Homo sapiens: one gene and its partners. The protein of the gene in region 1 interacts with the protein of each later gene in a pairwise test. Each region holds a gene or a part of one and is shown in the gene's direction. Other genes may lie near its edges. The genes, in order: N4BP3, RFC5 and CTDSP2.

Region 1 (7,450 bases):
CTCCCATGCCAACTCTACAGGAATGTCATGTCTGGGGGCAAGTGGCCCCTTGCAGGGGCATCTGCTGTGCAGGTCCAGGAAGGTAAATAAAGTTCACTGAATACAAGATCCCCCCATCCCAGCAGGAGTCCAGCTTGGCCTCTCCCATACTGTCCAGGCAGATGTTGGAGGGAAGAAAAGAGGCCTGGCCTCCTGTTGGTTTCTGCCTCCTCACCTCTGCCCAGCCCACTTTCTTCTCTCAAAGGCCTCAGCAAGGCCAATGGGAGGCCAAGGTCAAGGAGACGGGGTGAGAACAAGAGGCAGCCCGCATGGACAGGACAGGAGCGCAGTGCAGTTGAGCACCTTCTTTTTCTTTTTTTTTTTTTTTGAGATGGAGTCTCGCTCTGTCAGCCAGGCTGCTGGAGTGCCGTGGTGCAATCTTGGGACACTGCAACCTCCACCTCCCAGGTTCAAGTGATTCTCCTGCCTCAGCCTCCTGAGTAGTTGGAACTATGGGAGTGCGCCATCACATCTGCCTAATTTTTGTATTTTTAGTACAGACAGATTTTCACCATGTTGGCCAGGCTGGTTCTCGAACTCTTGATCTCAGGTGATCCACCTGCCTTGGCCTCCCAAAGTGCTGGGATTACAGGCATGAGCCACTGTGTCCTGCCTTTATTTATTTATTTATTTATTTATTTTTGAGACGGAGTCTCGCTCTGTCGCCCAGTCTGGAGTGCAGTGGCACCATCTCGGCTCACTGCAAGCTCCACCTCCTGGGTTCATGCCATTCTCCTGCCTCAGCCTCCCGCGTAGCTGGGACTACAGGCGCCCACGACCACACTCTGCTAATTTTTTGTATTTTTAATAAAGATAGGGTTTCACCGTGTTAGCCAGGATGGTCTCGATCTCCTGACCTCGTGATCCTCCTGCCTCGGCCTCCCAAAGTGCTGGGATCACAGGTGTGAGCCACCGTGCCCGGCCTTTTTTTTTTTAAAGACAGGGTCTTGCTCTGTCACCTAGGCTGGAGTGCAGTGTTCGATCATAGCTCACTGCAGCCTCTGATTCCTAGGCTCAAGGGATCCTTTTGCCTCAGCCTCTCGAGTAGCTGGGACTATAGGCACCACTGGCTTGGCTAATTTTTTATTTTTTTATAGAGATGGGGTCTTGCTATGTCGCCCAGGGAACTCCTGGGCTTAAGCAATGCTCTCACCTCGGCCTCCTAATGCGTTGGCATTACAGGCGTGAGCCACTGCACCCAACCCAGAATCTGAGTTTTCATCAGAACTTAGCTGTGACCTCTCTCTCTCTTCCTCATGCCATTTCTTGCAAGTGGATTCTTATAAGAACCTTCATTCAAACCCTCTCATAAACATCTCTATCACTGTCTCTCCCACTCAGTTGACAGAATGAACACCTTCTCGGCAGCTTCCAGCTTCCAGGTCCTCCTTGGCCCCATTTCTTTCCCTAGAGACCCAGGGGACCCGACCTCCCTGCCTGCCTGTGCCACCTCACAGGCCCCACGTCCAGCTGCGTGCACAAGCTCCTCTCTCTCAATGCTTCGGAGGCTCCCAGCGCCCACTTCAAGAGGCTTCTCTGGGTCTGCTCTCGGTTGCCACCTTCGTCCCTTCCCACCACTAACCTTTCCCACCCAGGGCTTGGACCTTGCTAGCAAGCTGAACGTGCCCTGCCTTCTCTAGCCCTGCTATCTGCTCTGCTGGGAACACTCCTCAGTGGAAATGCTTCCAGGACCATCTCAAAAACCATTGCTCCAGTGAGGCCTTTCCTTGGGTCCCCCAAACAGCCAAACAGGTTCTTGCTCTGAAACTTTATCTGTCCCAGTGAGTAACCCTACCAGACTGGCTCCTCAAGGGCTGAGACCCACAGCAGCTATTAATGAGTTTTCTTAGACAAGTATTCTGAAGTCTGGCAGTTCTATTAGAAATTCTGGCCGGGCGTGGTGGCTCACGCCTGTAATCCCAGCACTTTGGGAGGCCGAGGCAGGTGGATCACCTGAGGTCGGGAGTTCAAGACCAGCCTGACCAACCCCGTCTCTACTAAAAATACAAAATTAGCCGGGCATGGTGGCACACACCTGTGCCAACCAGCTACTCGGGAGGCTGAGACAGAAGACTCGCTTGAACCTGGGAGGGGGAGGTTGCAGTGAGCTGAGATCACGCCATTGCACTTCAGCCTAGGCAACAAGGGTGAAACTCCATCTCAAAAAAAAAAAAAAGTTGCCGGGCGCAGTGGCTTATGCCTGTAATCCTAGCACTTTGGGAGGCCAAGGGGGGGTGGATCACGAGGTCAGGGGATCGAGATCATCCTGGCTAACATGGTGAAACCCCATCTCCACTAAAAATACAAAAAATTAGCCGAGTGTGGTGGTGGGCACCCGTAGTCCCAGCTATTTGGGATGCTGAGGCAGGAGAATGGCGTGAACCCGGGAAGCGGAGCTTGCAGCGAGCTGAGATCGCACCACTGCACTCCAGCCTGGGCGACAGAGCAAGACTCCATCTCAAAAAAAAAGTTCTTTCAGCCAGGCATGGTGGCTCACGCCTGTACTCCCAGCACACTGAGAGGCTGAGGCAGGCAAATCATTTGCCTTAATTGATTTGCCCACCTCGTCTTCCCAAAGTGCTGGGATTACAGGCGTGAGCCGCCATGCCTGGCCAGAAGTTCTTCCTAGAGGTTCTATGCTGTCCTAGCAAGAATTGGTAAGAACAGCATAGAACACAAGGGGTTGCAAATTTGTGGGCCGTAGACCAAATCTGTTCCACAAGTGACAAGATGTTTTTTAATTGAGGTAAAATGTGCATACCATAAAATTAGCCGTTTTAAAGCAAACAATTCAATGACATTTGTATATTCATAACGTTGTGCAACCACCACCTCTGTCAGGCTCCAAAACATTTTCCTCATCCCAGAAGGAAACCCTATGCTTGTTAGGCAATCACTCTGCCTTTCTCTCTCCCCACAGCCTCTGGCTCTAATCTGCTTTCTGTTTGTCTGGATTTACTTATTATAAATGGCATCATTAACACATGTGGGCTTTGTGTCTGGTTTCTTTCACTTGCCATGTTTTGGAGGTTTATCCATGTTGTAGCAGGTATCATCAGTGTTTCATTCCTCTTTTTCTTTTCTTTTCTTTCTTTTTTTTTTTGAGACAGGCTTACGCCATCATCCAGGCTGGAGTGTAGTGGCACAATCTCCGTTCATTGCAACTCTGCCTCCTGGGTTCAAGCAATTCTCCTACCTTAGCCTCCCGAGTAGCTGGGATTACAGGCTCGCTCCACCATGCCTGGCTAATGTTTGGTGTTTTTGGTAGAGATAGAATTTCGCCATGTTGGCCAGGCTGGTCTCAAACTCCTGACCTCAAGTGAGCCGCCTGCCTCGGCCTCCCAAAATGCTAGGATTACAGGGGTGAGCCACCACATCAGGTCTTTTTTTTTTTAAGATAGAGATGGAGTTTTGTGAGTTGCCCAGGCTGTTCCTGAACTCCTGGCCTCCAAAAGTGCTGGGAGAGTTCAGACATGAGTCATCACATGGCGTTCATTTCTTTTTTATGGCTGAATAATATTCCACTGAATGGATCTACCATTGTTTGCTTACACCCTCATCAATTGTTAGTTTGGGCTGTTTCCACCTTTTGGCTCTTTGACTATTGTGACTAGTACTGCCAAGAACATTACTTGTTTGAGGACTATAATTGCCGGATCATATGGTAACTCTATGCTTAACTTTTGAATTAGAAACGGTGTTTTAATTTTTCGAATATGACTCCTTTACGTGTCTGTGTCTGTTTCCATGTCTTCCTACTGTCTTAGTAGGAAGCTCACGACTCATTTGCGTAATTTTTCTGGCCCCTGAAGGCACCTGATTTTGCTGCCCCTAGAATACTTTGGAGGCAAAAAGAAAATAACTCTGTGCCCAATTCAGCCAGAGTCGTGGGGTAAAATCTTTTCACTTCTCAAAGTACTACTGTGGTTCATCCCCAAAGGGGGGAAATCAGGTTTTCCGGAGAGGAGGCGGCTACAATTAGGGAGGTGAGGGACCTCACGCGCCTCTTCCTTAGAGGAGGCGGGCGAGGCGAACGGCGGAGGAGGAGAAGCGGGGGCGCTGTGCGCTCTCTGGGGCGTGGGCCGCGCTCGGGGCTGCCCACCCCTCGGGAACGAGCCGGGGCGCTCAAGGAGGCAGCGACGCGAGGCGCAGCCGGTCCAGGTTTCGCCCGCCACCGCCGTGCGGCGCCTCTGCGGGTCAGGGCCGGGGGCGCGGTCGGGGCCGGGCGGGGCCCAGGTTGGCTCGCGGGTAGGCGGCCCCGCCCCCCACATCCGGGGGCCGGGGCCGGGCTGTGGGCTTGCCGCGCGCCGGTGAGTCAGGCCGGGTTTTCCCTCCGCCTTTGGGGCAGGCGATCGAGCGCCGCGGAGCGCGTCCCTCCCTCGCCAATCCGGCTCCGGCGCCGGCGCCCGCCCGCGTTTTCCCGGCGCCTGCCGCTCCGCCGCTCCGACCCGGCACGCAGTCCCGGCCCGAGCCGACGCCTTGCAGGAGGGTTCAAATCCGCGCGGGGGAGCTGCGACGCGCAAGGGCTGCGGAGCCGCGGGCCGGCGAGCGCGTCGCCACCATGGTAAGTGGGGCGCGCGAGGGGCTGGGGACCCGGGCTGGACTCGGGGGGTGGGGAGGGGTGGGGCGGGTCGCCAAGGTCTTGTTTTCGGGCGTCCTTGGCAAAGCTGCTGTCCCGCTGGCCGAGGCTCCCGTCTGAGAGATGGGCGGGGGTGGCAAGGTGCGGCGTGCGCCCAGGTGTCCCCTGCTCCCGGTCACCGAGGCACCGGATCGGGGACCGACCCCGATGCTCCGCTGGAGGGGCAGGCGGCAGGCTACCTTGCTCTCCCCAACCCCTGCAAACGCGCTTTCCAGGGAGCAGCGCGCGGGACCCCTGCGCCACGGCTGGGTGGGGCAGGCGTCCTTGGCGCCGGCGTCTGACCTCGGCCTCCGCCCCCCGGCCCAGCCGCTCCCGGCAGGCCTCAGGGAGGGGCCAGGAGGAGACGCGCCTCCCACCCCGCCCCCCAGGTAGCTCCGGGACCTCCCGCAGCTTTGGGGAACCCTCGCCTTCACCCCTGCTTTCCTGACACAAATTCCGTGGGGATGCAACCTCGTTTGCCCCTCTGACTTCCCCATGAGATCTCTCGCTTCCTCCCACACCTCCTTTATCCCCCAACCCCCTGCCGGTCCACCAGGCTGCAGCTGCGGGTCTGCGGGTAGGGGACATTCCTAGGTCTTGACCGCCAGAGCACCCGGTCCAGTCCCGGCCACAGCCTTTGGCCCAAGTGAGGGCTGGCCTGGGGACAAGCCGAAATCAGGGCCCTGGCTGTATCCAGAAAGAGAACTGAGACCCGTTGCCTCCCACTGGGCCACCCCCCGACCCCAACCACATAGGAACAGATTGGGCCTGGCTGTCCTCGGGAGGGAGCGGACGCAGGAGGCCATCCTGGGCGCGGTTATCAGCCTCCTCCCAGGGCCCTCCCAGGCAGGGCTTCTCTACCGGCTGGCAGCGTGTGGTGTGCATGTGCCAGACTGTGAATGAATGCGGCCAGCCTGCCTCTGCCACCGCCTCTAGAGCTAGCATAGCGACTCGGAGTCCCCATGAGGCAGGTTTCCTCTATTTCTTCCTGACCTGGGGGGCAGCAGGAGGGATTCCAGGCCTGGTGGACCGCAGTCTAGGGCAGCCTGGTTGCAAGTGTCCTTGGGAGAAACAGGCATGGAGGGCTGGGCAGACATATATGCAATACATACACAGCAGTGTGTGCCCATGGAGGGGAACCCGTGACCCCTGGCTTAGGACAACCTGCTGAGGTAGAAAGGACCTTGCCCAGGGAGTTGAGATTGCTTCTCACTGTGGGATCTTGGATAACTCACCTCGCCTTCCGAGGCCTCAGTTTCCCGATCTGTAAAATGGCGTGAGGGTAATTACTGTCCTGTTTGCCCCCACGAGGCTATTGTGGAGATGAAATGAGATAATGAAATAGAAGGGCTGAGAAAAAACTGTAGACTGCGGTGCAGCCGTGAAGCACTATATGGTGATACTAAGCACCACTTCCGCAGGCTTTAGCCCCTGTCTCTGCCTCAAGTGTCTGTCACAGAGGGGATGGGGTGGGCCAGCCTCTCCCAGCCCCTCTCTGGGCCCCCCTTGCCTACTACCCCCCCCTTTTGGAGCTGGGACATTCCAGTCCCATTCCTTAGGGGCAGCTGCAGACACGCCCCTTAGCAGAGCTGATCCCCCAGCAGGTGGTGGGACCTTTCCCTGGGGCCAGGGCTCAGGAGGGGCTGACTGTAGCCAGGGCAGGCAGCACTCCTGCCCATGTGGGGACTGGAATGTCCCACCCCAGAGGAGATGCAAGGTGGGATCCGAGAGGACTTCTAATCCTGGAGCCTGTGTGCTTTCTCCCCTGCGGCTGAACGTGACCTTAGGCGTGTTACTTCACTTTCTGAACCTCAGTTTCCTCTTGTGAAGTGGGGGATGACAGAACTCATCTCCTGTGTGTCTTGTGAGGATGTGATAGTGCCCTTTGGCGTGACCCAAAAGGGCACCAACAGGCTCTGGGACGCCCCCCTCAAAGAAAGCGCGTCCTCTCCTTCTTTGCTTCCTGGCCAGGGCAGCTGTGTCTTCCATCTCCACCAAGGATTGGTCCGAAAGCAATTCCTCTCCGTGTTCAGAGATTCCAGTGCTGCCTGCTAATCTTGGGGACTGGAGAGGGGTGAGGGGACTGGTGGCGGGGAGCAGGAGTGAAGAGGCCTTACTGGGGCTAGCCAGGACCTGTGGAGAATGTGGCTTGAATGTCCCAGCCCAAATCTAGCCAGCTGTGTGGCTGGGGGTTTGCCGCTCCCAGCTCAGGGAAGCCCAGGCACTTGGCTTGTCCCCTACCCTTCTCTCCACGACCCGTGCAGGGTCCCCGGCTTTTTGCTCTGATGTTCCAGTGAGGCTGCAAGGCACTTGCTGTCCTCCCTCCCTCCTCCCCCACCAAATCCCCTCCGCCTGCACAGCTGCCCTGCCCAGCTGCCCTGCCCGGAGCAGGCAATCCCTGGGCTTCCAAGCAACAGGAAGGAAGGAATGTATGTGTTGGGGGAGGGGGTGGAGGTAGGATGGACCCCTTTAGGAAAAGAGACTGTCCCCACTCTGTGACATACGCAGGGAGGAGTGTCCTGAAAGCTGGGGGCCCCCGCCCTGCTGGGGGAGCTGATAATCCAGTCAGTCAGCCAGGAGGGGCACAGTGGGGACGGTGGGGGGCCTAAGGAGAGACAAAGGGAAGGGGCTGTCTGCTGCTCCTTCACTAGCCTGGGGGCTGGGAAGGACACTAGGTCATCATGCCACTGGGCTGCTCCTGCTTTGTCAGTGTGTCCTGTGGGTGACCTTGTGCACAGCTGTATGATTGTGTTTGCTGCTGGACGTGACCGTCTGCACCGTGTCCTCTAACAT
Region 2 (7,101 bases), on another chromosome or scaffold:
CCTGATCCTCAGTTCAGAAGTTTATCAATGAAGACCGACTGCCACACTTGCTTCTCTACGGTCCCCCAGGGACAGGCAAGACATCTACCATCCTAGCCTGTGCGAAACAGCTATATAAAGACAAAGAATTTGGCTCCATGGTCTTGGAGGTAAATAAGATTGTTCTTACTCTACAAATAACTTAAGAGACTCCAGTCTCTTAATTTCAGTTCTGCTGGTTTTATTTTACTTTAAAAGTAAGTTGCCCCACGGACAGTTAGGAAAGAAGTAAATTTGAATATTTTAATTCCCTTTTTCCTATAATGGTCATTTTGGTCTGGATTAGCGTTGGTCAGCTAGAGGGCAGTTGTAGGGTTTGGCACCTTTTTCTTTGCTCTTGCCAACTTCTCCCCAAACCTTACTTTATGGTGACTTGGTTGCTGCCTGTCTGCCATGGCCCCTCTAGATCAATTCTCCACGTTTCTCCACCATATTCCTGCCTGGAAGGCTGAGCCCTACTGACTATAAGCTCACTTACCCTCTGGCTCCTGGTTGGGTTTGGCCAATAGGGGCCTTGGCAGGGGTGGGGGAAGGAAGTGAGTGATGCCTGGGCCTTCCCTGGGGGCTGACACAGGCTGGCAGCATGGCCCACCTGTAGGGTACATCTCACAGGTGGTACCTTTCCTGCAGCCCTCTCCAGGTGCCTACAGCCACTCCCTTCACTAAGCCCTTCAGGCTCAAGGGTGACAGGTATTGCATAGCCCCATGGTTTTCCTATATCACACCTTTAAAAAGATCTTGTTTAATTCTCTTCAAATTGCTGCATTTGAGTATGCCATCTGTATATTGCTGGGACCTTGACTAATATACTTAGATTCAAAAATCTGAGTATTGTCTATTGCAAGAAAAGTTTAACTTACTTTTTAGACGCAGGTCTCAGAACTTTGCTGCTACTAATGTCCTTATTTCAGTTTATTAAGAACTTGGTAACTTAGGATTGTGGTAGCTGAAATTTGTATCATTCTGCTCATACCAGAGGTGCTGTTCAGTGTAACCATACCAATTAATTATTTCTCCAATTTATGTCAGTCATTGTCCTCAAAGGGTGGGGGTAATATAGCCATCTTTATTAATTTAGTGAATTTTGTGTAAAACTGATTTTTTATTTTATGATGATCTCTTAGCCATCATTAGACATAGAGAGCTAGCCTGCTGAGCTGGACTGATGAGGAAATACACTAACACCAAGAACTCACAGATAGCACAGCAACATGGTTTTTGTTTTGTCTTCTGTCTTCCACATTTAGCTGAATGCTTCAGATGACCGAGGAATAGACATCATTCGAGGACCGATCCTGAGCTTTGCTAGCACAAGGACAATATTTAAGTAAGAATTATTTGTGTAATTTCGCTCCCTTGATTTTGATTAGTAAGATGATATGGGTTAATTTTTTAATCCTCTCCTTAGCCAGTTTATATGGGTTGAAAAAAAAAGTGACTTTGTCCAAAGCAACCATGGAAAAGAGATAAACGAGAGGGATGGTAGTAAGAAGCGTTATAATGCAACTGTTAAAATAAAATGTTATCTACGCTTGTATTAGCAAGTTTGTTTTTTTTTTCTTTTTTTTTTGGAGACAGGGTCGCCCTGTATCGTACAGGCTGGAGTGCAGTAGCATGATCTCGGCTCACTGCAACCTCCACCTCCTGGGTTCAAGCGATCTTCCAGCCTCAGCCTCCTAAGTAGCTGGGACTACAGTCGTGAGCCATCACGCCCAACTAATTTTTGTATTTTTTAGTAGACATGGGGTTTTGCCATGTTGCCTAGGCTGGTCTCGAACTCCTGAGCTCAAGCAATCTGCCCGCCGCAGCCTCCCAAACTGCTGGGATTACATACGTGAGCCCAGCCTGCATTACCAAGTTCTTTAGGGAGCATTAACTTCATTTTTAGTTCCTGAGAACTGGCTAGATTACCCTAAGACTGGATGAGCTAGTTTGAATTTAAAAATAAATTGAGATCAGGAAGGACAACTAGGATGGTGGCTAAAAAAAAAAAAAGAAAGAAAGAAAAAGGGTGAGGGCCGGGCGCAGTGGCTCACACCTGTAATCCTAGGACTTTGGGAGGCCTAGGCAGGTGGATCACCTGAGATCAAGGGTTCAAGACCAGCATGGCCAACATAGTGAAACCTCGTCTCTACTAAAAATACAAAAATTATCTGGGCATGGTGGTGGGCGCCTGTAATCCCAGCCACTCAGGAGGCTGAGGCAGGAGAATCGCTTGAACCCAGGAGGCAGAGGTTGCAGCGAGCCAAGATCGCGGCACTGCACTCCAGCCTGGGCAACAGAGCAAAAACTTAGTCTCAAAAAAAGCAAAAGGGTGAGGGACTCAGGCATGAGTGAGGGAGACGGGAAAAGCAGTAGCATGGTAGGGTGCCATGTGGAGGAAAGTGAAGATGCCAGAGGACACAGCGCACAGAAGTAGAGAAGTCTCCTCCATTCCCACCAAGGGTTGAAGGAGTGATGCGGCATTTCCTCTCTGAGTGACCAAAGATGTCTGCCTTGGCCAAAGTTCTAGAAGAAATTGTCTTTCTGAGACAGGGCCCGATGGCACAATGGGAAGATATAGGTTTGAGCCCAGATGTTGAGATGAGATTGAAGAAATCTTTAGACAGCACCATTTGTTTTTCTAGGAAAGGCTTTAAGCTAGTGATCTTGGATGAAGCAGACGCCATGACTCAGGACGCCCAGAATGCCTTGAGAAGAGGTAAGCAGAGGCACTGTGGAGCGTTTGGGCTGGTGTGCACACTGGAAGGAGAATTAGGAACTTTGTGTTTGTTGCTGTTGTCATTGTTTTTTTAGGCGGGGGGGAGTTTTTTTTTCTTTTTTTGAGTCAGAGTCTTGCTCTGTCACCCAGGTTGGAGTGCAGTGGCGCAATCTTGGCTCACTGCAGCCTCTGCCTCCTGGGTTCAAGCGATTCTCTGACCTCAGCCTCTTGAGTAGCTGGGATTACAGGCATGCACCACCACACCCGGCTGATTTTTATATTTTTAGTAGAGATGGGGTTTCACCATGTTGGCCAGGCTGGTCTCGACCTCCTGACCTTGGGTGATCCGCCCGCCTCGGCTTCCCAAAGTGCTGGGATTACAGGAGAATTAGGAACTTTAAGCTTCCCAAAGTGCTGGGATTACAGGAGAATTAGGATGTGAGATATGGCTTGGCTTGTTTTCAGTTTTCATCTTCTGGCCCAGAGAAATCTCTATGCCTTTCTCTGTGTCTCCCATCTAATGACACAGGCTAGATACCTCTGTAGCGGGACTTCCCCTTCAGCAGCCTAGGGACTAAGCCCTGCGGGGACTTTTAAGTCTGGCCAGTCACTGGTGTTCAACCTCCTTTGACACTGGGTTCAATTTCAGAGTTGGGAATTCATATCTTTCCGTGGGATGGGGTGTGGAAAATCTTTCATCCTTAAGCTATCAGATAGTCCTTCTGCTAATAGTACCCTCTCCTTTCTACTAATGGTACCCTTTGAACCACAATGGCTAGGAAAAGCATATCTGAAGTTGAGGTGCTCAGAGAGCTGATATTACTTCACTGCTTGCCAAGTGAATGATTTGGCAGCGGGAGGGACAGCACCCTGCGATTTGTCTGTCTTCAGGGGCCTAGCGCAGTTCTTTTCTCTTAAAGGACACTTGTCATCTCTCATTAAGATTCCAAGTGAATCAGCTTTGAGAGAAGAACGATCTTTAGGAGTTTGTGGCGAGGGAGTAGATGGCAGCACATGTTAAGAGAAGGATGGGGGAAGGGGGAGGAGGAGGAGGGGGGAGGAGGGGAGGAAGAGGAGGGGGTGAGGAGGAGGAGGGGGAGGAGAAGGCGGAGGAGGAGGGTAGGGGGAGGTGGAGGAGGAGAGGTGGGGGAGGAGGAGGAGGAGGAGGACAGCGAGAATATCTTCTGGTCCTAGAAGCTTGGCAGCCTTTCTTCGGCATCTTGTTCTGCCGAGTGACTGTCATTCTGGGCAGATCCCCATGTGAGAACATTGGGTACCTACAGAATGGAACCGGTGTCATAAGCAACTCTTTGTTCGGGTTATTGCTCCCTTGAGTGCTCTAAGGCCTCCAGACAGTCTCCATGGAAAAGTCTGCAAAAAGCCGCCCTCCCTGCCCATAGAAGGTGAAGTGTCATCAACCTGCCAAATATAATTTTATGTAAAAGGACAAGAAGTCTCATAGTCTTAATGGGATTACATGGCAAAAGTGCCAGAATCATGGCAAATGGTAAAAAGGAAGCATTTTGTAAAATCCCACGGAGGCATGTTTACCAGTTTGTGAAAGAGGGGTGGCTAGGCAGGGCGCAGTGGCTCACACCTGTAATCCCAGTACTTTGGGAGGCTGAGGCAGGCATATCACCTGAGGTCAGGAGTTCGAGACCAGCCTGGCTAACCGATGAAACCCCATCTCTACTAAAAATACAAAAATTGGCCTGGCACAGTGGCTCATGCCTGTAATCCCAAAGGCCAAGGCGGGCGAATCATGAGGTCAGGAGATCGAGACCATCCTGGCTAACATGGTGAAACCCCGTCTCTACTAAAAATATAAAAAATTAGCCGGGCGTGGTGGCACGTGTCTGTAGTCCCAGCTACTCAGGAGGCTGAGGCAGGAGAATCGCTTTAATCCGGGAGGCAGAGGTTGCAGGGAGCCAAGATCGTGCCATTGCACTCCAGCCTGGGCAACAGAGCGAGACTCTGTTTCAAAAAAGAAAAAAGAGGAGTGGCTAATCTCTGATCTGAACAGGCCAGCACTGCCCTGTCTTGTCATAGGCTGCAGCCTCACTTGTTTACATTCTTTCTTTTTTGAGACAGAGTCTCACTCTGTTGCCCACGCTGGAGTGCAGTGGAATGATTTTGGGTCACTGCAACCTCCACCTCCCGGATTCAAGCAATTCTCCTGCCTCAGCCTCCCAAGTAGCTGGGATTACAGGCATGTGCCACCACACCTGGCTAAATTTTGTATTTTCAGTAGAGGTTTTGCCATGTTGGCCAAACCTCCTGACCTCAAGTGATCCTCCCGCCTCAGCCTCCCAAAGTGCTGGGATTACAGACGTGAGCCACTAAGCCACTACGCCCGGCCAACATCCTCACTTGTTTGCAGTATTGAATCTTTTCCTATACCCTTGTGACCACAGAAAAATTCAAGTTTTCTGGGCTCTCTGAAAAATCAGAATGGACTTTGACATGAGGTGGTTTTATTTTCTCTTACTAGTAATTGAGAAATTCACAGAAAATACCAGATTCTGCCTCATCTGTAACTATCTGTCAAAGATCATCCCTGCCTTGCAGTCCCGCTGCACGAGGTTTCGGTTCGGTCCCCTGACTCCTGAACTCATGGTTCCCCGCCTGGAACATGTCGTGGAAGAAGAGAAGTGAGTATTTTGCGGGCCTTTGGGGATGGAGTGTAGTAGAAACAGGCTTGTGGGATCACTGGCTGGTTCGTATGTAGAGGAGAGGAATGTTGGAAAACGACTTTGCAGAGTGCCTAGCACAGGGGAGGCACTGGGGACCGTCCACTGCTATCATTTTCTCTGCTGTCTCAAGGCCATTCCTCATAAAAGTCATTTGGTACTTCATTTTTCTTGATTCCATCCTCCTCCCCTGGAAGCTGTCCCAATTTCCTCCTACTCTTCTTTGTCATTGGAAACTGCAGGCTGCTGAGTCCCTTCTGCAAAGATGCTTCCAGCCTTTTTAGACTAGAAGGGAAGGTTCTAAGACATCACATTCTGTGTAGTCAGATGCCAAGCAAGTAGCCGACCTGAGCAGCTGCTTGTTGTGAAGGAGGAGTTTCGGCTGTGTGATCATGGCTTGTGCCAGGCCTCTGTCCTCCCCAGAGAGCAGAATTCAAGACGACTGGCTCCATGGGAGAATGCTTGTTCCTAAATTCAGGCTGTTCTCGATTTTGGTTGGCTGTGACTACTAATGTGAAGCCCAGGTCCCTAAAAACCAGAGTGAATTCTAGATCATATAGATCAGGAGATTATTAACTCTGTTCCTCTCCTTCCTTCATCCCTTTAAAGCCTTAATCATTCCAGGCCATCTTGTTCCTTTGGTGAATGCTGGTGCTCTCAGGGGGCCTCATAAATCCCTTTTGCTTATTTCTTTCAGAGTTGATATAAGTGAAGATGGAATGAAAGCACTAGTCACTCTTTCCAGTGGAGACATGCGTAGGGCTCTGAACATTTTGCAGGTATGGTCTCAAGCAAATCCTTTTTTTTTTTTTTTTTTGAGACAGAGTCTTGCTCTGTCGCTCAGGCTGGAGTGCAGCAACACAATCTCAGCTCACTGCAACCTCCGCCTCCTGGGTTCAAGCGAATCTCCTGCCTCCTGAGCAGCTGGGATTACAGGTGCCCGCCACCACGCCCTACTAATTTTTGTATTTTTAGTAGAGATGGGGTTTCGCCATGTTGGTTAGGCTGGTCTCGAACTCCTGACCTCAAATGATCCATCTGCCTCAGCTTCCTAAAGTGCTGGGATTACAGGCATGAGCCACCATGCCCAGCCTGGTCCCAGCAAATCCTGAGTCATTGTTTTGTAATAGTTTTTGAAGAAAGACCTAAGCAAAGGCATGATCAATCTGTAAATTTTGAAATCTACAGCTGGTAAGACCTTGGTCTCATAACCTGCAGGATTCCCCCTCCTCACTTTGTATTTTGATTAATTGAAAAAATCACTTGTTGCAGGCCAGGTATGGTGGCTCACGCCTGTAATCCCAGCACTTAGGGATGCCGAGGGAGGTGGATTGCCTGAGCCCACGAGCTGGAGACCAGCCTGGGCAACATAGTGAGACTCTGTCTCCACTAAAAAATCATGAGCCAGGTGTGGCGGTGCACACCTGTAGTCCCATCTACTCAGGAGGCTGAGGCAGGAGGGTGACTTGAGCCTAGGAGGTCGAGGCTACAGTGAGCCATGATCATGCCACTGCACTTCAGCCTGAGCAACAGAGCAAGACCCTGTCTCAAAAAACAAAGAGAGAGCAAAAGAAAATGTTTTAAAAACAAAAGGAATCATTTGTTGCAAAGAAGGCAAAGGGAGGGAAGGATTTGGCACTGGAATAGCCAACAGGCTGTGGCATCCTCTGA
Region 3 (7,662 bases), on another chromosome or scaffold:
GTTGGAGTGATGAGCATGCCTGCACCTTGCAGGCAGTGAGGTTTCCCACGCTGTTGCACAGAGGAGCTATCCCCGCTACCACTAGCTCCTCCCTCCCTCTGCAGCCCTCAGCATCTGGCACCCTCACAGCAGTTCAGTCATTAGCCACTGGGTCTCTCTCCCTCACCCCACCCCATCTCAGCCCCGATACTCTGCCCTGGGAAGCCAGGACAGGACCATACCATACAAGCCTTGTGACAGGAGGGCACCAAGCTCTGGAATCTTGGCATTGACATCCACCTACTCATGAACAATACAAAGCAGAACTGAGACTGCAGGGACAATCAGAAAAACCAAGAAAATCAATGTGTTCCTTTTTTTAAAAAAAAAGTTTTTAAGAAAAAAAGTAATATTTCAGTGACATCAGAGATAATCATGAAAGGTCGGTAGCCCAACCTTGTACTTATTTTCTGTGGGGAAAAGGGCAATTAGGCATCTCCCATGGAGGAAGCTCCTCCAGCTGTTTCCCTTTCGCCAGCCTTGGCTCGGGACACCCAGTCCGACTTCAGTAGCCACAGCAGGAGACAGACAGGGACAGCCACTCCATGTTTGCCCCACATAGCCCCCCATTCTAGCATTTGGGGGTAATGGGGACACTGCTGTTGTTTCCAAATTGCCTCTTACCAACCATGCAGTCAGAGAGGCCAGAGGAAAGGGGATACAGCAGGTAGGGAACCAAGTGAGAGTCAGTGGGCTTTCTCCTGGGAGAGTTGTTAGACCTGGCTTCAGCTATCTCCCTTGAACCACCTAAAATGAACCACCTAAAGTTACACAACCAGCAACTGGCCCAGGCCCCGTAGGCAGGATGTTATTTTTGAGGCTATTTTAGGCAGAAGTTAGAAGGTCCACTTGCCTCCCACCACCCTCACCACTTCAACTATAGGAAAGAGGCCCACCATGACCCTACAGAGCTTTCCAGAGTGCAGACCTTTTCCTAGTCATCTGTGGACAGAGCAGTGAGAAGCCTGTGGCATCAAGAGAGCAAGCCCCACCTATGTTTGGGGTTCCAGGCTCCAGTAGCGCCTCCACTGCTTTTGTAGTCTCTGGAAGCACAGGGGTCCTCACCAGGCCTCTTGGGAACTGCCCCTCCTCCCTCATTTACCCCTCCTTGCTGGGTTCTATTTGTACCCTTGTGCCTCTGGCCTTGGAAGGGGTTCTATCTGTTATACATAAATTTTTCTTTGACCTCAGAGCAAGAAATGCTTGAGGACCATCTCCTCTGCATCTTTCAGGGACAGCCAGAGCCCTGAGACACACATGAAGGCATCTACTGCATCCAGGAGTGAAAGTAGCATTGTTTTAACACTGGGTCACAATCCGGTGGTGGTTTGTGAATTCAATTTAAAAGGTCATGGCTGGCACCTTAAAACCATCAAATAGAACACAATACGTGCAATAGAAAATATGAGTGTGCACACATAGCCAGGGTAAGTATTGTCCATGAAACTTTTGTATCATTTATCTCACAACATAAAATGTGTTTCTTGCTGTAGGTCACTGAACAAATCCCTGGACAAAAGAACACTGGTTCAGACATAAAGTCAAGGCCAGGCATGGTGGCTCACACTGGTAATCCTAGCACTTTGGGAGGCCAAGAGGCAGGTGGATCACCTGAGGTCAGGAGTTTGAGACCAGCCTGGCCAACATGGTGAAACCCCATCTCTACTAAAAATAGAAAAATTAGCTGGGCATGGTGGCAGGTGCCTGTAATCCCAGCTACTCAAGAGGCTGAGGCAGGAGAATTGCTTGAACCGGGGAGGCGGAGGTTGCAGTGAGCCAAGATCACGCCACTTCACTCCAGCTGGGGCAACAGAGTGAGACTTCATCTCAACATGTACAAGTCACCTGTTCTGTGTTAGGCACTCTGCTAGGCACAAGAAATCCAGTAAAGAATAAGACATCCCCTAGTCTCAATCCACCTTCTGGTTGGGAAGCCAATAAGCACACAGTTGCAAGATAGGGTGCCAAGTGGTCTGAGAGAGTATGTATGAGGCTATAAAACCCTGACATGAGGGCGGGCATCTGGGAGGGCTTCCAGGAGAGGTGATGCAATTGGAGTTCACAGCAGGAAAAGAGAGCGATAGGTTCTAGTGTCTCCTCCATCCTATAGATAAGAAGGGAACTATGTTAAAGTGTCAAGGGTTCTAGTCTTAAAGTCCAAAGACATCCTGTCTCCTCTTCTTAACAAGCTGTGAGGTCTCAGGTGAGTCAATTAACCTTCCCAGACCAATTCCTCATTTACAAAACAGGCATCTATAAAAATGGGCATAATATCTGCTCTATCAACCTCAAAGAAGTGAGAGATCAAATGAAATAGATAATATATGTGAAAGTACTTTGTAAATTACAAAAGGGGAGGTATTGTCTCTATGGATGAGGAAATGGAAGCATAACGAAGTGAAGTGTCCTGCCCTACAGTGCTATGGGTAGCAGGCCCCTCTAAATCCTCAGTCCTCAGCTCCTGCCTGCATTCCTCCCACTGCAACTAATCTACCTTAGAAGAGGGCAGGGGAAGGGTCTAAAAAGGCCCCCATAGCAACCTGACTATTGAAGATTTACCTTAAAGATCCTATTGTTTTAATGATGGGAGGTGGGTATGTCAGAACTCCTCCGTTTCCCTTTCTGTTAATGAATTAAGATCTACCCAAATTCAGTGTTTAAAGTTACATAAGCATCATTCAGATCTGTAACAGCCACTTTCATTTTGGAAAAACAGCATTTCCATTAAAATGATGTTATATAAAAAGGTTTTGTATACGTGCGTAGGAACAGCAGAAACAGGCACACATGATCACTGTATGGCACACAGGCATATGCAGATCATGACCTCACCTGTCCTCATGAGGAAGGGACCATAGGAAGCAGGTGTCTGATAGTACCTGGCAAGCTTAGCTGTGACCTAGTTGTCCTCTAATCATCAGTAAGACCTGATGCATGTTGGGCAATGGGAACTGCAGCAGGAAGGAAGCCCCTTCCTTGGCAGGGTGAGTGCCACTGAATCACAGAATATTGGGGTTGGATTTAGCTCAGAAGTCACCCAGTGCAATCTCACTCTACACCACTCTTGCCGGCCTTGACTTGAACAGCTACCATTGTCCCAAGGCAGCCCATGTCACCTGTGGACAGATGTAGATCACTGGAAAAGACCTGATATTGAGCTGAAACCAGCCTTTCTGGAGCTACCACCGCTGGGGAACAAAAGCACCCACAACCTTGAGCAGAGACTCCAGGAGCTGTAGCCAGCGGAGCGTGCCCCGAGGCCTAAAGAGCAAGTGGGGAAGGCAGCCTGAGTCCACAAAGCTGAAGCTCCTCCGAGAGACCTCCATCCATCTAAAGGAAGCTGGGACTGTGGGGGCAAAAAGAGAGGGGTAGGATGAGGGAGGTAGGGAGGAGGGGCGGAGTCGGGGCCGCCTAAATGGGAGTAAGTCGGTGGGTGTGAGGAAAGCCCAGCACCTCAGGTCTCATTTTCAGTGTTTTGGGGGACACAGTCCCGAGGTCAGTTCCAGCTCTTATACTCTGGAGTCCTAGGTCCGCCCACACGCACACACCCCTTTCGGGATTCGAAGGTTGTACTTTTTTTTTTTTTTTTTTGAGACAGAGTCTCGCTCTGTCGCCCAGGCTGGAGTGCAGTGGCGCGATCTCGGCTACCTGCAATCTCCGCCTCCCGGGTTCAAGCAAGTCTTTGCCTCAGCCTCCCGAGTAGCTGGGATTACAGGCGCCCGCCACCACGCCCGGCTAATTTTTTTGTATTTTTAGTAGAGACGGGGTTTCACCATCTTGGCCAGGCTGGTCTTGAACTCCTGACCTCGTGATCCACCCACCTCGGCCTTCCAAAGTGCTGGGATTACAGGCGTGAGCCACCGCGCCTGGCCTCGACGGTTGTACTTTTATGTGACTTGGTACGTCCTTGATTCTAGGGCTAAGCAGGGGGGTAAGGTAACTTCCGATCCGCCCCATCCCCTGCTGGAGTCAGGTTAGGCTTAGCGGCTTGTCTTGGTCACCCCTGAAGGGGGAAACCTTTCCACCTTCCCCGAGTGCGCCCTCCGAGAAAAGAACACCCCAGCACAGAGCACCAGAACGTGAGCTTCGGAGCGGCCTTTTAAATAGTTGGGAAGGGGGTGTGGCCGAGGAGACTGGGAGGCCGCAGTCTGGCGCGGGGGGAGTGGCCCGGGGGCGTGGCCGTGGCGCCTGGAATGTTGTTAGGTCCTCTCACCGCATAGTAAGGAGGGGCCACGCCCCTTTTCTCCAAGAGAGCCAATCGGAGCACCGGAACGGTTTCAAGTCTCCCCCGCCAGCCTGCCCGCCCGCCACCCCACCCCCCTTGAGGATTCGCTTTTTCCGTAACAAAATAGCAAAGCTCCCGACTGTCCGCAGCCCCGGCCGCTCACAGATGGAGGGTCCCAGGGCCTAGGACGCAGCCCCCAGCGGGAAGCTCCAGCTGGCCGTGAAGAGGCCGAGTCGAGAGCCGGGAGGCGCGCGGGGGTGGGCGCTGCAGCCGCGGGTTGTTTATCTGGAGTACGGAGGGGAGGGGGGAGCCTGGAAACCGCCCCGTGTCCCATTTCCTCCTCTTGTTTTCGCTCCGGATTCTCCATGTTGGACCCAAACTGAGGAGCCCGGAGCTGCCGCTGGGGGATCGGGGCCGGGGGCACCCGGGGGAGCCGCTGCCCGGGCCGCCCGCCCTTTGTACAGGCCGCCTCCCTTCCCGGTCCGGGGAGGAAACGAGAGGGGGGATGTGAACAGCTGTGGAAGTCGGAGTCTCGGGAGCCGGAGCGGGCCCCCGCCCAGGCCCCCCAGCCCAGCCCAGCCCGCGCGCCCGCCCGTCCTCCCGCCCAGCCAGCCCGGGCCCGCGGGATTGTTAGATGGAACACGGCTCCATCATCACCCAGGCGCGGAGGGAAGACGCCCTGGTGCTCACCAAGCAAGGTAGGGGCAGCAACTTCCCAAAACTTTGCGTCGCCCCCGGGCGCGGAGGGGGCTAGCACAGCCCCGAACCCAGGTCTCGGCCCTTGACCTCCAGGGCTTAGAGCCAGCGATCCCGACTGGACCCCTCCGGTCCATCCGCCCCCGCATCCCGGCTGGCACTCAGACCTCCGTGGGGGTTGCACGGGGATCCCGGCGCCCGAGCGGAAAGGGCGTCTTCGGCGCAGCTGTCACCCTGTCCCGCAACCCCTCCCCCTCGGGGCTGAGAGACGGAGGGGTAGCTCTCGAAGCACTGGGCCACTCCGCGTCCACCGCCTCCGGAGTTGGGGGTGGGGTCGTCACTTTCCTTCACCGCCGCGCGCGGCTGCCCCGGGATCGCGGGGAGGGGTTAGGAAGGTGACAGAGGGAGCCCCAGGTGGAACGGAACCGAGACTGGAGTCCAGCACTTGCAGGCCCCCCCAAGCCCGAGGTCGTTCGGGCAGCTAGCTGGCGGTGACGGCGTCCGGCGGGACTTGGGACCAAGTTCACCTCTTGGAGGCGGGGGCGGTCGCGGTGGGGGAGGGGCCCGGGCCCTGGCGCACCAGACGTGGCGGGTTCCCGGCTCAGCGCAGGCCCCGGGACCTTGGCGGCGTCGGGCTCCCTCCCGGCTGCCTCTGACCAGTTTCGCTGAGCAAACAAGCCCGACCCTGAGGCCCGGCCAGAGCCCCTCCCTGCCCGGTGCGCTCCCCCGGGGCCGGCGCTGCACACACAGAGCCGCGTTTGTTTAGCCCGGGAGCGGTGTCCCTGGTTACATAATTCGCCGGATGGCATCAGACCCGGCGTGGTTCTGAATCGCGCAGCGAAAAAGTGCGAGTTCTCTGTGGGCAGCGGCTGGCGGCCCCCGCCTTCCAGAGCGTCAGGTGGAGGCGCGAGGGGGCCCGCAGGCCCTCGCGGGGGTGAGGCGGAGGCCGAGGCCTCTCCCGGGGCGGGAGAAAGCTGGGGCCCGAGGGTGGAACCTCTTAGTTTGGTCACAGTGGGAGACTCGAAACTCTTTCCCCCTCCGCCACGTTCTTCTTTTGGCCTTGAGGAATGTGTCCAAAATAGCGGCAGATTTTCCGCGGGGTGTAAGGACGAGTGTGGCGTTTCTCTAGAGAGCCCCCCGACCGGGGCCACCTGGCCCCGGAGGCTGGGGCGGGAGCTGGCTCCTGGGGCCGAAGCCGGAGCGCTCCCTCCCCTTCTCCACCGAGCGCGAAGGGCCGGTGCTGCAGTTGAACACACTGAGGCCTAGAGCCTGGTGGGCGGCCAGCTTCGGGGCCTCGTGCGCCCCACGTCTCCCCGTTTGGCAACATTAGTCAGCAGGTCACTAATTCCTGGGGTTCACGTTCCAAGGAGCTCCCCCAACTTCCCTAGGGGCAAATCCGCTGAGTTGGTGGTGTCAGCCTCTCCCAAATTCCCTCAGTGGAACGAGAGGAGCTGGGAGGGGGGAAGGGTGGGGGGAGGGAGGCAGTGTGTTCCTCTTGCATCACTGGCCGGACTTTAAATAAGCCTGCCCTGAGAAGGGATGGCCTTGCCTACTCAGATCCCAACCCCCGAGAAGGCTCCGGCCTCCCTGACCTCGGTGTTGCCATGATTTCTGCTCTCCTGGCTGCATCACTAACCAGGCTGTGACCCAGGCAGCAACTTCACCGCCTCTGCTGGCTGCTCAACTGTGCTGATGGCTGAAAAAGGAAGGGAGCCTGCGTGTGTTTATAGCTCACTCCTGACTCTTCCCACTCCCTTTTTATCCCAGGAAAAGACCCTAAGAGCTAGCCAGAGGGGAAGAAACCTAGATGTGGGGGGATTCAAGAGGGGGCAGTGGTGATGAGTAGGGGGAGGAGCCCTGTGCTTCCCCACTAGGTCTTCCTCTCTTGCAGGGACTCTCTTGCAGGGAGTGTGCCTTGGGCATCGTGGGGCCACGCGAGGAGTAAGGGAAAGCTGGACTGCGCCGGGGCATCTTAGAAATCAGAGCTGGAAGTTTCATCCACCAGGGTGAATGGCAGGCTACAGAATAGATAACAGCAGAAAGCAAAGCAACTGGCTTGACAGTGTTAAGTTGCTGGTGTTGGATTTTCTTGGAGTTAATGTTTCTCCTTTTTTGTGTGTGTGGTTTAAGCCAGCAGCCACTGGGTCTCTCCCTCCCCATGTAATTTTTTATTTTAATTGAGATGGAGTCTTACTCTGTTGCCCAGGCTAGAGTGCAGTGGCGCAATCTCAGCTCACTGCAACCTCCGCCTCCTAAATTCAAGCAATTCTCCTGCCTCAGCCTCCCAAGTAGCTGGGATTACAGGCGCGCGCCATCACGCTTGGCTAATTTTTTTGTATTTTTTAGTAGAGACAGGGGTTTCGCCAGTTGCCCAGGCTGGTCTCGACTCCTGAGGTGATCAGCCCCCTTCGGCCTCCCAAAGTGCTGGGATTACAGGCGTGAGCCACCGCGCCCGGCCCCTCCCCATGTAATTTGATTGCATTCCAGAGAAGACAGACTTTCTTCCTGGGCTGCTTAGGCACCCAGCAACCACTAAACCAACTTTCTGAGTCCCACATCATTTACAAACAAAACCTACGTCTTCAAAACAAAACAAAAAACAAAAGCTGGGGGACTGGGGAAGCAGATGTTTTAATTGGCTCCTTTTGGAGTTCCTTCTTCTCCCCACTCCGTCCTCTCCACAACATCCCATCTCCATGCCT

The links.
Region 2: the proteins of N4BP3 (region 1) and RFC5 interact in binary tests that used the Homo sapiens proteins (3 or more experiments, as listed by UniProt).
Region 3: the proteins of N4BP3 (region 1) and CTDSP2 interact in binary tests that used the Homo sapiens proteins (3 or more experiments, as listed by UniProt).

The regions. Positions count from the first base shown.
Region 1 is NC_000005.10:178,109,169-178,116,618, forward strand, and holds the start of N4BP3 (NEDD4-binding protein 3), read left to right. Parts: upstream 1-4,363; 5' UTR 4,364-4,603; intron 4,604-5,597; exon of another isoform or gene 5,598-7,450.
Region 2 is NC_000012.12:118,019,620-118,026,720, forward strand, and holds part of RFC5 (replication factor C subunit 5), read left to right. Parts: intron 1-12; coding exon 13-149; intron 150-1,286; coding exon 1,287-1,366; intron 1,367-2,666; coding exon 2,667-2,740; intron 2,741-5,231; coding exon 5,232-5,391; exon of another isoform or gene 5,392-5,395; intron 5,396-6,127; coding exon 6,128-6,209; intron 6,210-7,101. UniProt on the Homo sapiens protein: Subunit of the replication factor C (RFC) complex which acts during elongation of primed DNA templates by DNA polymerases delta and epsilon, and is necessary for ATP-dependent loading of proliferating cell nuclear antigen (PCNA) onto primed DNA.
Region 3 is NC_000012.12:57,843,672-57,851,333, reverse strand, and holds the start of CTDSP2 (carboxy-terminal domain RNA polymerase II polypeptide A small phosphatase 2), read left to right. Parts: upstream 1-4,604; 5' UTR 4,605-4,898; coding exon 4,899-4,962; intron 4,963-7,572; exon of another isoform or gene 7,573-7,662. UniProt on the Homo sapiens protein: Preferentially catalyzes the dephosphorylation of 'Ser-5' within the tandem 7 residue repeats in the C-terminal domain (CTD) of the largest RNA polymerase II subunit POLR2A.